Linked DNA regions of Homo sapiens. The protein of the gene in region 1 interacts with the protein of each later gene in a biochemical or structural test. Each region holds a gene or a part of one and is shown on either strand. Other genes may lie near its edges.

Evidence for each region.
Region 2: the proteins of TARBP2 (region 1) and TOP1 interact in a test that uses a peptide from one of them, tested with the Homo sapiens proteins (one study listed by BioGRID).

Annotation. Positions count from the first base shown.
Region 1 is NC_000012.12:53,504,283-53,507,232, forward strand, and holds the end of TARBP2 (RISC-loading complex subunit TARBP2), read left to right. Parts: intron 1-114; coding exon 115-187; intron 188-415; coding exon 416-533; intron 534-852; coding exon 853-980; intron 981-1,366; coding exon 1,367-1,568; intron 1,569-1,708; coding exon 1,709-1,866; 3' UTR 1,867-2,149; downstream 2,150-2,950. Other genes in the region: NPFF (pro-FMRFamide-related neuropeptide FF), read right to left, coding at 2,494-2,611, 2,739-2,950; ATF7-NPFF readthrough protein, read right to left, coding at 2,576-2,611, 2,739-2,860. UniProt on the Homo sapiens protein: Required for formation of the RNA induced silencing complex (RISC). Component of the RISC loading complex (RLC), also known as the micro-RNA (miRNA) loading complex (miRLC), which is composed of DICER1, AGO2 and TARBP2.
Region 2 is NC_000020.11:41,108,769-41,116,069, reverse strand, and holds part of TOP1 (DNA topoisomerase 1), read right to left. Parts: intron 3,289-7,301; coding exon 3,145-3,288; intron 2,101-3,144; coding exon 1,915-2,100; intron 700-1,914; coding exon 631-699; intron 1-630. UniProt on the Homo sapiens protein: Releases the supercoiling and torsional tension of DNA introduced during the DNA replication and transcription by transiently cleaving and rejoining one strand of the DNA duplex.

The DNA.
Region 1 (2,950 bases):
GTGGAATCGGGAGATGGTAGTCAGGAATCTAAAGTAGTGGTTAGGTTTGGAGCTCATGGGCAGGCTCAGATGGAACCCTTCACCTCAACTTTGGCCCTGTGCCTTTTCCTTCAGGAGCCCCCCCATGGAACTGCAGCCCCCTGTCTCCCCTCAGCAGTCTGAGTGCAACCCCGTTGGTGCTCTGCAGGTGTGTCCCATCCTCATTTCCCATGCATGCCTGTCTTCCCTTGAGCCAGGGGCCATGAGGGAAGGCTATGTGTGTTTGGGGGTGGGGGCGGTTCCTTGTACTGAGGCCCTTTCCACCCCCCTCTCTCCTTCCTCTCACCTAGAGTCTGAGGCTCCTGCGTGGGGACCAGCGTGGGTGTGAGAAGCCTTTTTTCACTCAGCCTCATGCACCCTGTGTCTCCCTTCCAAGGAGCTGGTGGTGCAGAAAGGCTGGCGGTTGCCGGAGTACACAGTGACCCAGGAGTCTGGGCCAGCCCACCGCAAAGAATTCACCATGACCTGTCGAGTGGAGCGTTTCATTGAGATTGGTAACTGGGCAAGAAGGGGTTCTCACAACTCCTCTCCCGCAGCACTCTGGCCCCAGCCACAAAGCAGCTCCTGGCCTCACTCTGCTACACCCCCTGCTCTCTTAGCTTCACAGTCCCTAGCTCAGCCCCTTCCTTTTAGCTTCTTGGCACCCTATTTGTCCCCTTCTCTCTGGCTGACCAGGTTCTCACGTGCATGGGCAGGTCTTGAGTTCCCCTTTCCAGTTGACATTCTGGGGGGACCCTCAATCCAAGTATGACCTGGGTGGAAGCACTGGGTCTGTGGGGAATCATAACCCAGCAGCCCTCTCTCCACATGCAGGGAGTGGCACTTCCAAAAAATTGGCAAAGCGGAATGCGGCGGCCAAAATGCTGCTTCGAGTGCACACGGTGCCTCTGGATGCCCGGGATGGCAATGAGGTGGAGCCTGATGATGACCACTTCTCCATTGTGAGTGGCTCATGTGGGCCGGGCACCGTGGCCCATCCTCCATGCCAGGGCAGGGCTCCAGGGACTTGGGTCTGTGACTCAGCAGTGAGCCTCTCTGGGCCCTAGGTCTGCTTCTGCCACAGTTTTCCTACCAGACCCAGGGTTCCTGGGGCCGACTCAGCCTTGACTGTAGGCCCGCTCTGTAGCTCTGTTACTGGGGTGAGGAGGGATCCCTGGCCATCTGGCCCAGGGCCTGGTAGTTAGAAGGGGCCACCCAGGGATTGACTGGGGGGAGGCAAGCTGGAGGAAGCATTCTTTGTGCTTTGTTCTCCTTTGACGTTGAATGTCTCAATGCCTGGGTCCCACAGTCTCTCGCTTCATCTTTCTCACTGTTCCCATCTTGACAGGGTGTGGGCTCCCGCCTGGATGGTCTTCGAAACCGGGGCCCAGGTTGCACCTGGGATTCTCTACGAAATTCAGTAGGAGAGAAGATCCTGTCCCTCCGCAGTTGCTCCCTGGGCTCCCTGGGTGCCCTGGGCCCTGCCTGCTGCCGTGTCCTCAGTGAGCTCTCTGAGGAGCAGGCCTTTCACGTCAGCTACCTGGATATTGGTATGGCTAGCTGGGGAGCGAGCCAGGGGATGGTGGGGGCTGGACCGGAGCAAGTAGAAGGGGGTGATGATAACGTGAACGCACCCCTCCCCAGGGCTACCTCCCCCAACATTGCCTCCCTCCTCTCTCTTGCTCTCCAGAGGAGCTGAGCCTGAGTGGACTCTGCCAGTGCCTGGTGGAACTGTCCACCCAGCCGGCCACTGTGTGTCATGGCTCTGCAACCACCAGGGAGGCAGCCCGTGGTGAGGCTGCCCGCCGTGCCCTGCAGTACCTCAAGATCATGGCAGGCAGCAAGTGAAGCCCCAGCTGGACTCATGGATGTGCACCCTTTGCTCCCTGCTCTTTCTGCCTCTGGGCTCATGTATCTGCGCAGCTCTGGTACCCTCTGTGGGTGCCATCTCTACCTCTGACACAGACTGCCTGCCTTGAAGCTGAGAAGGCACAGGGCAAGGAGCCAAGGACCACAGAGCCTCAGCCAGCCCAGGATCCGTCCTCATTTTATTGGTGATGATGAATGGGAATGAAATCAGGGGGCTGTCTACTAGAGCCTGGAATAAATATGCTGCTTTGTGGATTTTTAAGCCCTTCTCTTCTGTTTCCTTGAGCAGTGTGGATAGCAGAGGAGGTCACCACATTACTTTTGTGTGCCTTCCCTGAGCTCCTGTTCCAGCCATTCTCCTGTTTTCCTTTCTGGTGGGAGGAGGCTGGGCACAGTGGCCTCGTGGAATGTTGTCGGCTGCCTTGCTGGAGGGCTGGGTTTGGTGGAGGGGAAGGGCAGTGGTTCTTGCCCTTGGGCTTCCACCCAGCCCTGTAAAGTCTCACACAGACACACATGGATTCAGAAGCCAGACAATTTTATTTGGGGGGCAAACATTGACACTTTTGGGTGTGGACCTTGCATGCAGACATATCAAGGGATGACATGTCACTTCTTCCCAAAGCGTTGAGGGGCAGCCAGGCTCCAGAACTGGGAATTCAGCCCCTCTCCAGCCCGGGGACTCAGCCATTCATTCCTCCAGGATCCCTGGGTATTTCTGCCAAACCTTAGGAAAGATTTGTCCTCAGGTCCCCGCAGTCTCCCTTCTCTAGCCCCCTTCCTTCTCCTCTTCCTCTGCCTCCTGCCCTTTCCACCCCCAGCCCCTGCCATGCTTGTGTCCCTTTCAGACTCACCTCTGGGGCTGAAACAGGAAGGCTTGGCTCCGGCCAGGTCTCTCCATTGCCTGGAGCAGGTAGTGCAACAGTGACCCAGAGGTCTGGGCATCCTGTGGTGGGAGGGGTTCGCTGTCTTCCTCCTGTGCCAAGGGGGTATCAGGGAAGGAAGATGGGCAAATACCCTGGACACGTAAGTCACAAGGGGAAGGGACTGGCTTCCAGGGGCAAGT
Region 2 (7,301 bases), on another chromosome or scaffold:
GACAGGGTCTCACTCTGACACCCAGCCTGGAGTGCAGTGGTACAATCTCGGTTCACTGCTGCCTCCACCTCCCGGGCTCATGCAATCCTTCTGAGGCTCCTAAGCAGCTGGGACTACAGGTGTGGACTACCACACCTGGATAATGGTTTTGCCATGTTGCCCAGGCTGGTCTCAAACTCCTGACCTCAAGGGATCTGCCCTACTTGACCTCTCAAAGTGCTGGGATAACAGGCGTAAGCCACCAAGCCTGGCCCAGGTTGGTGGGCTTAACAAACCAATAAAGCAAATTTTTCCTTCCCTATTAAGATATCAGGGACAGGTTTTGGGTCTCCAGCAGGGGTGGCTGGGCATTCAGTGAAGGGAAAGCTCTGCAGGAGCAGGGAAGGATAAAAGGTAGGGCTCATCTACCCCCCACCCTGAGTGCTTTAGCAGTTGTTCTGCAGCAGATGTGTCTTCTCTTGACTACAGATTCACCGTGGACTCAGAGGGAGGAAGAGAGAGTGTATGGGATGCCACAGAGCAGGCCAGGCTAAAGGGAGAGCCCAAGTCATCTGCCAGCAACCCTCCCCTTTAGGTACTGTGAGGCTCTGGCTGGGACTCCCTTCAACATTGTGTGCTTCATCTACTCACATTGAGTCTATCAAAAAGATCATCCTCGGGCTGCTTGTTCTCCATAAATAGTTGTAGGTTCTTAAAAACCTAAAAGATATAAGTGAATCCTAATTATTACTCTTGAAAAAAATCCTAACTTTAGAAATAACCCCAAACTTAAAGAAACTTGCAAAGAAAAAGGCACAAGGAACACGCATACATCCGTCACCGAGATTCACTGTTAACATTTTACCCCATTCATCATTTGCACAGTGTGCATGTATGCTCACTCTCTCCATGTGTATATTTACAGATATATATACATAATTGTTTGTTCTGAGCCATTTATAAGCACTTACTTATAATATGGTCCTAAAGTACATTTATAAGTACTTACTTATAATATGGTCCTAAAGTACATTTATAAGTACTTACTTATAATATGGTCCTAAACATTTCAGTGTGTATGTTCTAAAAATAGATATTCCCTTACATTTACACAGTATCAGCTTCAAAAATTTACATTGATACATACTGTTATCTAATCTGTCCAGAGTACTTCCACAGCCAGCAAAACCTGATTACTGATTATGGTGTCCTTATGAGAAGAGGTGTCTTTATAAGAAGAGGACTGCTGGTGGGCTGGATTATTAGGATCCTGCACACTGTAAGTCTCTGGTTCAAGCCCAATACTATGGAAAAGATTAGGTTGGGACTACAGAGCTATAGTACCCTCTTCAGTGATGGGCTCAGAGATCTGGGGACTAACATTAACCTTTCACTCAGTCAGGAGTTGGAGAAAGGCTGAGCAAAGATGAAAAGTGACAAATGTACCACATGACCAGGGGATACTAAGATATAGTTAAATCATATGCTGAGTTTGCTCTAAGGGCCTATTCTACAGCATGCTCCATTGAATACTGCTATAGGAGAAGGCCACTCCTTACCAGGAAGGTAGCACAGGGCGGAACAGTGACTAAAAGGAGGTACACAAGATATCAAATAATACCTCTCCCCTCTTTCAAGTCATTTATTTTTATTTATTTTAATATGAGAGGCAAGGTCTCACTATTTTGCCCAGGCTGGAGTACAGTGGCTATTCACAGGTGTGATCACAGCACACTACAGCCTCAAACTTTTGGTCTCCAGTGATCCTCCTGTCTCAGCCTTCTGAATAGCTGGGTCTACAGGCATGTGCCATGTTGCCTGTCTCAAGTCACTTTTGCTGGTGCCCAGCAAAGTGCAAAGCACACAAAAAAGCAGTCAACCCATGCTTGTTGAATAATGGAAAACAAGTCAGACAGTACAGGTACATTAACTTACTCGTTTCTCAACAGGGACCTTGTTATAGTATCTGATGGAGTCCTTCCCGAGGAAGTCAAACTCTACCACATATTCCTGACCATCCAACTCTGGGTGTAGATTGATGTGCTCCACACGAAGTGAGCAGCAGCCCACAGTGTCCGCTGTTTCTCCTTCCTCCTTTTCATTGCCTGCTCTCAGAGCAAGCTGCCCAGGAAAGAAAGAAAAGATGAGCATGAATGGAAGAGACATGATCCTTACACAATTTCGTTCTGTGTTTTTTTTTTTTTTTTTTTTGAGACAGTCTCGCTCTGTCGCCAGGCTAGAGTGCAATGGCGCAATTTTGGCTCACTGCAAGCTCCGTCTCCCGGGTTCATGCCATTCTCCTGCCTCAGCCTCCGAAGTAGCTGGGACTACAGGCGCCCGCCACCACGCCAATTTTTATTTTTTTTTTTTTTTTTGTATTTTTAGTAGAGATGGGGTTTCACCACATTGGCCAGGATGGTCTCTTGACCTCGTGTTCCACCTGCCTTGGCCTCCCAAAGTGCTGGGATTACAGGCGTGAGCCACTGCGCCCAGCCTTTTGACCCTTATGCAATTTCTAGGCATCCAAAACAGAAGCCTCCCAATTCTGTTTGAAGCCACAGCATCAGTCAGCATGGCCTGGGAACTCTGGATTCTGCAGTGTTACTTCCTCCCCCACTCACTATGAAATCTATAGGGATGTTAAATATTCATGCTCCTTTTCTTTCTATTCTGTCCTCTGAAATAGGGATGGAGAAAAGGAAAAAAAAAATTAAATAAGGCAGCAAATGAGGGAGTGCTGCTACTCTGGGCAATCAAACTCAAAAAGCTAGTGTGAATTTTGAGACAATTCAGAACTTATGTTAAAATACAAGACTGGGGGAAAAACATGAACTTTTTTTTCTTCTCGTGAGTACCAAGAAATTGATCTCCTCTAGAGCGTGGTCTTTAAAACTATATAATGGTGATACCTGCATGGTTTATTTAAACAATTTTATAAGTTATAACCAACTTTCTAAAGGAATGAAATAGAGTTAAAAAAAGATCAGAATCTACTGCTCACAGTAAGGCTAAGCATTGTTTTGTGCAACTTTTGATTCAGTTTTACATACAAATATATGTATGTTGAGTTGTGATATACAGTATGTGGCACAGGGCCTGGGGCAGAGCAGAAACTCCCTTTGTTAAGCTCAACACTAGACAATGCCGATGGGAAGATGCTCTCACCTTGTCGATGAAGTACAGGGCTACAGCTCTCTGCCGGACTTTCATCTCTTTGGACTTCCAGTCTTCTCGATACTGGTTCCGGATCTTGTCCACACATTTTTTCAGCCGCCGAGCAGTCTCGTATTTCTGCCAGTCCTTCTCACCCTGTAAAGACCCAAACCCAAATGTAGATTACTTTGGGACAGTGTAGTAAAGACAGACTTTGAATATAGCCAGGCAAGGTGGCGCAAGCCTATAATCCCAGCTAGCTAATAGGGAGGCTAAGACACAAGAATTGCTTGAACGCAGGAGGCAGAGGTTGCAGTGAGCCAAGATCACGCCACTGCACTCCACCATGGGTGACAAAGCAAGACTTTGAACAAAAGAGCAGGAACTTGACCTTAAGCAAACGTAAAAAAGAATAGTACTGAAGAGAGAGTTTGGCACATTTAACCTGTTAAGAATGCACATTGTCCCATCTCACTGCCAAGCACAACTGACTTCTAAGGCTTTCCCAGAAGAAAGTTTCTAGCTCTAATTCTCTAAAATGTTTATGTTCCTGGGAAAAACCCACATGGGATGTCCCAAAAACTAACTTCTGTCAACACAAAGCACATAATCACCCCCATTCCCACATCAATTTCACAGCCTTGCTGCCAACTCTGTGACCCAATAGCAGTTTTCTACCAGGACTGAATTCCATTAAATCTAAGTGAATTCCATTAAATTACAGTGTGGTGGAGCTGTCAAAGAAGCAGAACCAAAGACTACAACATGTAATTACTAAGGACACAATGACTTCCAGGAACAGCCATAATTATTCACCATTTTCTAACTTCTGCATTTAAAAGCATTTCTTGATGAGATTGAGAGAAACTATGTTTCTGGGAAGCCTTTAAAAAAATAAGAGCTTTTGGTGGAAGGGTTAAAAGTTGATTCTAAACCCAATGAAGGGTTACTAAAACCATGTGAAAACTGAATCTAAACAATAGTGAAGAAGACTTCTGCTACCAAGCTGAATGAAAATAGACTCACAAGCAAGAGCCAATTATGACAAGTGAGAAGGGGAAAAAAATTCAAGAAATCCAGAAGCAGGGAATTACATAAAACAGCATAAAACAGACTAGATGACATAAACATAGAGAAGGAATTTAAGAATCCAAGAATCTCTGCTCTTAATTTCCCCACCCGCAACAAAGGAAAGTGGTAGTGATTTCTGCCCACACATGCCTGGTTCCTGACTATGACGTGGACCCGTGGTCCTTGAGACATAAGACCTGTGGTGAAGATAACCAGCCTTTCAGCCTGGGCAACAGAGCATGACCCTATCAAAAAAAAAAAAAAGGGGGCGGGGGGTGGGGTGGGGGCGCAACCAGCCTTCTGGGTGTGCAGAAGCATGAGATACCTAGAGCAAGAATGTCTTCCACTTCTCAATCCTAAAAGTACTCAGAAATTAAAAGCTTACACAGTTAAGCTAAGGAGTCATCTGCACTCTCACATCATGTGTACCAGTGTTATGCACTTGTTTGGCTACAAGAGTTTCAGTAACTACCTGCTATCATGGGTGGGTGATTTAGTAGTTGGTGACACAGAAAAAATACCTAAGTCTTAGTACATTTTGACATTTAACAGGGTGAATAAGAAAAGGTGAGATATAAGCTGTCCTCATGCACAAGTCAGTAGTAAATCTCCATGACAACTGTTCTTACACATGCACGGAAAAATTGGACACAAAAGGCTCACCTTCAACAGTAGAGTACCCAACTCTGGAGTGGCCTCTTTCCCCTCACTCTAGTGCACATGGACTACCAAAGCCTGTCTCAAAGTCCCCTAGGGTTACGTTTGCTCAGTTCCTTAGTCACACCACTGGAATGTAAGGTAGGAGTCAGGTAAACGAGATTTAGAAAAACCCAACCCGCACGTCATTCACAGGATACTACCAGACCAACTTTTCTTCACAGGCTGGCTGGGCTTCTGCACCAAGGATCTAGGATTCTCTCAAATAAGCTGAGATGGAGGTGGAGGCAGAAGCCACCCCGCTTAGATCCAGCAGGAGATGGCTGGCCTCCAAGAAGTATGCTTGTCCCTGCAGTGTTCAATGCCCTGAACAAGCTTTCTTGACTACTTTTAGAAAATAAACTATCCACCTAGGTCTTCCAGGCAAGGTCTCACAAAACCATCTCAAGAAGACAAGGAATCCACTGGAGAAGGCTGCCTTTGACCACCTCTCCTCTTTCCCTAATTCAATCACACTTCAGTAATGGGTAAAAATCTAATTTAACTGATTGTAGATGACATTCTTTGGATGACTTTTTAAAACTAGTAGGCCCACTATATTGTCTCTCTAATATAGCTGCTATCCATTCAGCAGAGTGGTTGGGTGGAATCAGGATCTGGATTCAAGATTACAAAGTTGGGGGTGAGAAGGCAAATTGGATTCTGTTTTCTAGTAACTTTCTCAGACGTTTGTAATGGGGAAGAGGACATTTGCCAGTATTCTTACATGACTATTTCCCTTCTCAGTCAATTTCCACCAAGCAACCACTGATCCTTCAATCTGATTACTATCATCATGGATAAATTTTGCCTAGTCTAGATTATATAAATAGAATCATACAATATAGACTCCTCTGTCTGCCTTTTTAACTTTTTTTTTTCCCTCTGAGACAGCGTCTCGCTCTGTCACCAGGCTGGAGTACAGTGATGCAATCTCGGCTCAGTGCAACCTCTACCCCTCAGGTTCAAGCGATTCCCATGTCTCAGCCTCCTGAATAGCTGAGATTACAGGTGTGCGCCACCCTCGGCTAATTTTTGTATTTTTTTGTAGAGACGGTGTTTCGCCATGTTGGCCAGGCTGGTCTCGAACTCCTGACCTGAAGTGATCCACCCGCCTTGGCCTCCCAGAGTGCTTGGATTACAGGCATGCACCAACCGCACCTGGCCCTTAACCATGTTTTTAAGATTCATCCATGTTGTTGAATACATAAGTAGTTCCCTTCTTAACTGCTGATAAATATAGTATATTCTATGACTATACCATAATGTGTTATCTATTCTGGGATGTTTCCAGTTTTGCACTCTTATGAATAGAGCACTGCTATGAACATTCTTGTACAAGTTTTTTCATGGATAAATGTTTTTATTTCACTTGAGGTAAAAATACCTAGAACTGGAATTCGTATCTCCCTGTGGTTAAATCTTCACTCCACTGATAATTAGTGATGTCGAGCACTCTTTCATTTGCTTATTTATTGACCATTCCTGTATCTTCTTTTGTATAGTATATGTTCAAGTCTTTTGCTCTTTTTATTATGCGGATGGGATGTCTGTTTTTTTATTATGGAGCTACAGGAATTCTTTGTATAGTCTGGATATAAGCCCTTTCAGATAAACATGTTGCAAATATTTTCTTTTAGTCTGTAAATTCTGTATTTATTTTAGCAGTGTCTTTTGTTGAACATAAATTTTTAATTTTAATGAAGTCCATTTAGTCAATTGTTTCTCTTGTTGGTGTTTTTCTGTCCTAAGGAATCTACTCTAAGGTCATATTCAACCATGATATCACCTACAAGCTTTAATATTTTAGTCTTCACACTTAGGTCTATGTTAGTCTTACTAATAAATAGATTTAAAACGTTTTGAATTTTATACCAAGATGCCAGGCTCAGAATATATATATATTTTTAATGAGCTTGTGTCTTATTTTCTCTAATAGAACTCACCAAAATGAGAGCTTCCCAAGATGAATATTGTAAAGATACTTTCCTTCACATTTAGCCCTTTAATCCCTAGGTGGTTACATATAAAAGGTTGTAAGCACATACATTTTTGGAACCCCACAGAATTCTAGACTCTAAAGAGAAAAAAGGCAGAAGTGTGTATTTGGCACTGAGAGTATTTTAACAGGACTAAACGCAATACGATGTCAACATTGATCCTAAAGTTTGCTGTACTGCATTTGAAAGAAAAATCATGATGATAAATTCTGTTTGTAAGGTTAAGGCTGGTTTGAAAAAACCTGAATTTTACTAAGGGCTACTTTCCCTGGGTTGTGAGAGCAGGTAATGCTTCCAAACTTGGCAGTGGATTGTACTTAGCAGTGAGTACCCATAAGCAGCCTTTTTGTAAACTCCTAGATTATGCAGGATAAGAAACTCCTGGGTTATCTGGAATCAGAG